2 separate regions of the Homo sapiens genome follow, and region 1 is linked to region 2. The links come from fine-mapping of genetic effects on gene expression. Tissue or cell type: tibial nerve. Region 2 holds a variant in brackets; the other region holds the start of a gene. All regions are shown on one strand. Distances are between the middles of the regions.

Region 1 (2,684 bases), 39 kb before region 2:
CTCTGACAATAAATTTGTTTAAGCTGCCTAGTTTGCAGTATTTTGTTCCTGCAGCCCTAGCACATCAACAGTGAAAAGAATATGGATTCTGATGCCAGCCTTTAGTCTTTGCCCTGCTGCACGATTATTTTTGACTTTTGACGAGTAATTTCCACATTCTCATGCTTAAAATTCAATTTAGAATAACTTTTACTTTATTGGATTCCTTTGGGGATTAAATTAGTTACAAAAGATGTAAAGCGACTGATCCTCAAAATGATTTCTTTCCCTTGTTTTGTGACATGTCATGCTCTCAGTTATTTTCAGTGACTTTTATGGAATCCTAAATATATCAACTTAAAAAATTACATTAGCGATATTCTTGGTGTTACCTGACTGTGGTGCGGTCCAGAAAAATAAAACCACCTGTTAGAATGCGGGTTAATTAGATGGGACACTGCGATTTACAAAGCTTTCTATTTGCTGCCATGCCCAGTACAATGTCTTTGCATACTAGGTACTAAATAAAATTATGTTACTTAAATGTCACAACCTCTAAAAGTTTAAAAAATGACTTCTCTAAAAACTCAAATATTTTTTTCCTTGGCGTTCCTCTTACAGAATTGTTTTTAGTGATAAAGTTTTATTAATATACTTAATGCAGAAATAACTTCACTTCTTTTTTTTTTTTGGTAATCTGGATCCCCTAAATAGAATGCTAAATTTGTTTCTTGTGCAACAAACAAGTTACCACTTCTGACTCTTCATCTTGAGCTTCCTTATTTTTTTTTGGAGACGGAGGCTCGCTCTGTCCCAGGCTGGAGTGCAGAGGCGCGATCTCGGCTCACTGCAACCTCCGCCTCCCGGGTTCAAGCGATTCTCCTGCCTCAGCCTTCCGAGTAGCAGGGGTTACAGGCGCGCGCCGCCACGCCCGGCTAGTTTTTGTATTTTTAGTAAAGACAGGGTTTCACCATGTTGGCCAGGCTGGTCTCGACCTCCTAATCTCGTGATACGTCGGCCTCGGCCTCCCAAAGTGTTGGGATTACAGGCGTGAGCCACCGCGCCTGGCCTTGAGCTTCCTTTTTAAAGGAAGGAGCAGGAATGTTAACCTACACAGAAAAAAAAAATGCTTTCACGCTCTTGATTTACTCTAGGTGGGCTTCAAATGCGCGGTTAGCGCTTTCTGTAGAGCGTTGAGACGGCTGTTTACGTAAAGACCATCATGCGACGTTTCCAACCTAGATTCTAAGAAAAAAGCGGCCCAAGTCCCACCTTTCGCAGGGAACAGCTGATTCTGTTTTTCCTTCCCAGCCAATGGTGATCAAAAGCTTCAGGACGCTGGTGAGTCACTGCGGAGGAGCCGAACACTGACCGCGCCGTCCCCGCCAGGCTCCCGCGCGGCCGGCACCGCGGCCCTGAGCGCAGGCGGCCCCGGGTCTCAGGCCTCAGGCGGACCGCGCCCCGGGCTCGCAGCCCTCCCGCCCCGGCTGCCGGGCTACGGGGCAGATGGACTCGGAGCGCCCCGCCGGTGAGTAGCTACGACCCCCGAGGCCACCTCCCGCGAACCGCTCGGCGGCAGGAGTACGTGACCAAGGGTGGGGGCGTTGGCCCAGCAGCCGAAGGGGTCTTCAGCGCGCCCAGACCCCTCGGGGCTGCGGGGCGGAAGCCGGGGCGTGACTTCCGGCGCCGCCGGGTGTGGGGCGGAGGTGTGGGGCGGCTTCCGGAGAACCCAGCGGCGCGGGACTGGGGCGGGACTTCCGGCGACACCGGAAGTGCATTAGCGCCAGGTTGGGGTTGTGGGGTCGCGTCAGTGCGGAGACAGCGGTGTCCTGCGCGTCTTCGGGTCAGTACGGGGGGCCGCGTCGTAGGGACTCACTGGCGGTGCGCGACCTGGGCTGGCTCCGGGGGTGGCGGGCGCAGCTGCTGTGACAGGTGAGTGCCGCCATCTTCCTACCTGTCAGGCGCCGAGTCGTTCCCCGGATGCCCCGAAGAGGAGTCGGGACACTGCAGGGCTCAAGGGGGTGCAGGGGCAGTCGGGGCATAGTGGCGGATGGGGTGCAGGTGGGCTTGGAATGCAGAGGGTCCGTGGTGGTGCAGGAGGGGTCGGGTCCCTGGAGGACCCGTGGCGGTGCAGGAAGGGCCGTGGTGCAGAAGGGTTCAGGGTGCAAGAGAAGTCGGGGCGCAGGAGTAGTCCGTGGCGGTGCCAGAGGGACCAGGGTGCGGGAGGGATGGGGGCCCGGGGCGGTGCAGAAGATGTCGGAGTCCAGGAAGAGTCGGGGCGCTGGAGGGGTTGGGGGCAGAAGGGTTCGGCCCGGGGTCTCTCCCCGCCCCCTTTGCTTCGGCCTGGGCATCCCGGGGAAGTGCGTCTCCAGGGAAGCACTTGGGAGGCCCTTCAGAGAGGAGAATGGCCTTTCTTCTCTCCAAAGAGTGGGGATGGTCGGCTTCAAGAAGGGTGGTGAGTGTGGAGTGACGGATGCTGAAGTGATTAACACAGCGCCATGATATTGTTCCCCTTTTGAAGACTTCCTTTTCCTTCCCTTCCCCCTGAAAGCAGCCACCGCTGGAGGGAAACATTTTAAGACAGCTGTTCACCGGAATAACACAAGAGCAACAATAATAATGTACTCATTTACTAAACCAAGTTGAATAAATACATTTTTCCAGGTTGTGAGTGAAAATAGCTTAAGGTCTGCCAGGTTTTTAGA
Region 2 (2,684 bases):
CCACTTATTCACAAAAGTGGGCGGCTGTCTGGGTTTCGCCTATGGGCCAAATTGTGCTGACGCAGGAATAGAACACTGAGGTTGAGATGACTGGCCCCTTCATGCAGGTGGAGTTGTTTAAGAAGGAGCCCCAGCAACAGGTACTTCCAGTGTGTGGGATGCAGCGAGTCATGCGGTTTGGTTGGAGTTTCTATGTGAGAGAGAAATGTGGTGGGAGGGTTAGCCTGAGAGTCATTTTGAGCAGGCCCAGACCACATAGCTGACTTTCACCTTCATACGTGGATGAAGACTAAAGCAGACAAGGAGTTTACACCTTACGAAGTTGGCGGTTTGTGGGATGATTGAAAAGGGAGCAAGGAGACTGGTGGCAATTAGACGTGTCCAGATTCAAACCAAAGGGCTGGAAAAGAGGGTGGAACCAGACACATCCAGGAACTGATGAAGACTTGGAAACATGAGGTAATGGACATAGAGAGGGGAGAGTTAGACTAGGAAACATGAGGTAATGGGGATAGAGAGGAGAGTTAGACTTGGAAACGTGAGGTAATGGACATAGAGAGGGGAGAGTTAGATTAGGAAATGTGAGATAATGGGGATAGAGAGGAGAGTTACACTGGGAAACATGAGGTAATGAACATGGAGAGAGGAGAGTTAGACTTGGAAACAGGAGGTAATGGGCATAGAGAAGGGAGAGTTAGACTGAGAAACGTGAGGTGATGGGGATAGCGAGGAGGGTTAGACTGGGAAACATGAGGTAATGGGTATAGAGAGGAGAGTTAGACTGGGAAACGTGAGGTAATGGGCATGGAGAGAGGAGGGTTAGACTTGGAAACGTGAGGTAATGGGCATGGAGAGAGGAGGGTTAGACTGGGAAAGATGAGGTAATGAACATGGAGAGGGGAGAGTTAGACTGGGAAATGTGAGGTGACGAGCATGGAGAGAGGAGAGTTAGACTTGGAAACGTGAGGTAATGGGCATGGAGAGGGGAGAGTTAGACTTGGAAACTGGAGGTAATGGGCATAGAGAGGAGAGAGTTAGACTGGGAATGTGAGGTAATGGGGATAGAGAGGAGAGTTAGACTGGGAAACGTGAGGTAACAGGCATGGAGAGAGGAGAGTTAGAGGGGAAACGTGAGGTAACGGGCATGGAGAGAGGAGAGTTAGACTGGGATTGGGCATGATGTTGATTTGAGGAGGAGTTGCAAGTCCGGGCAGTACATTCATTTGCATCAAATGTGCTGCATCAGCTCAGAGCAGCTCCTTTAGAGAAGCTGGGTGGCAGTGAAGAGAAGGTGGAAGCCAGCCTGCCCGTGTGTGGGTGAGAGGTGGCCATGCTGGTGTCCGAGGCCTGTTCTGTGCCCCGCAGTGCTGTCCTTTTGTCTTTCCAATCCTCAGTCAAAGCGTTTCCTCGCAAACTGGCTGCTGAAAACAGAGTGGGACGGGAGCCGCACAC[A/G]TGAGCAGTGCTGATAGGTGCCTGGCCCATTGAAAGGCCGCGTGTGTGTTGAATGGATGGAGATGAGTGTCGCTTTCCCGAACGTCTCAGAGTTGATTGCAGCTGTAAGTTCTGATATGATAGGGTTTCTTAGGTTAGATAGATGGAGAGGAAAATCTACTATTTGTACATTTTCTCTGAACTTCCAGGACTTTCTATGCTAAAATGAAAGGTGAAATAGTTTTATAAGTAATCATTATTTCCTCAATTTTGGACATGTACTCTATTTTCAATAGCATTATGCAGTCTCAGAAAAGAGTTATTTAAGTAAAAAGTACATTCCTCTCACTAAGTGGTCACTAAGCTGGAAAGGTCTGACTGCTGCTGCTTAGCCATAGTGGCGGTGAAGAGCGCATTTTACCATGGTCTGTGCCTTGGGTAATTTTCCCCGATTTCTCTCTTCAGCTTCTGGAGATCAGACTGCTCATATCTGGAGATACGCGGTGCAGCTGCCGACACCCCAGCCTGTTGCTGACACTAGTGTAAGCACCTTTCCTTACCTGTGAATGTGTAGGATGCTGATGTCTGCGAATCTGAGAATCCATTTATGATATCTGTCATGGACGGAATGTTTGTGTCCCCCCAAGTTCAGTGTTGAAGGCCTCACCCCCGGTATGGTTGAATTTGGAGATTGGGCCTCTAAGGTAGTAGTTAAGGTTCAGTGAGGTTGCGTGAGGTCCTCATAAGAGGAGACAGTGGAGAGCTCACCTGTGTTCTCAATCTCTCTGTCACTCTCCGTGTCACGTAAGAGCAGAGCCAGAGGGCGGCCGTCTTTAAGGATGAGCCCGCACCAGAACCTGAATTGGCTTGATCTTGGACTTCCAGCCTCCAGCACTGTGAGAAAATAAATGTCTGTTTTTTATGCGTCGCCCGGTCTGCGGCCTTTTGTTGCGGCAGCCAGAGCCAACTGAGACAGATTTCAGTACCGCGCGCAGAGCGGGGGCTGCTGGAGAAATGCCGACGGTGTGGACCTGGCTTCGGGACCGGGAATGGGTACATGCTGCAGACGTTTTCAGGGACCTGCTGGAGAAAGCCTCCATAGCGGCGAAGAGCTTGTTGGTAGAAATACGGACATCAATGGGGACTCGGGTGAAGGCTCAGAGAGGAAAGGGGAGAGCTGGAGAGAAAGCTTCTAGCATCTCAGAGAATGCAGGTATCATAGACAGAATGTTGTGGAAAAGTGGATGTTGAAG

Direction of the effects. Positions count from the first base shown, and alleles are read on the strand shown. Sizes are in standard deviations (SD) of each study's normalised expression.
In carriers of allele A in region 2, the expression in tibial nerve of the gene that starts at base 1,328 in region 1 tends to be lower than with G alone (moderate effect, 0.44 SD a copy in GTEx).

What was found. PIP is the estimated chance that this variant, and not a neighbour inherited with it, causes the effect.
Region 1: it holds the start of WDR37, and the variant in region 2 is fine-mapped to the expression of WDR37 in tibial nerve (GTEx, PIP above 0.99). The same link has a PIP of 0.9 or more in pancreas, subcutaneous fat and whole blood.

Annotation. Positions count from the first base shown.
Region 1 is chr10:1,055,058-1,057,741 of GRCh38, forward strand. It overlaps WDR37 (WD repeat domain 37), which reads left to right and starts at 1,328. Exons shown (of 14, transcript NM_014023.4): 1 at 1,328-1,911. It also overlaps a transcript of IDI1 not described here. RefSeq lists silencers at 806-865, 1,296-1,725 and enhancers at 976-1,025, 1,826-1,885, 1,986-2,045.
Region 2 is chr10:1,094,274-1,096,957 of GRCh38, forward strand. WDR37 (WD repeat domain 37) reads left to right here. Exons shown (of 14, transcript NM_014023.4): 9 at 1,897-1,973. Among named protein-coding and RNA genes, the nearest start is that of WDR37, 39 kb to the left of the region's middle. RefSeq lists an enhancer at 1,365-2,564. The variant A/G (reference allele first, on the strand shown) is at 1,453.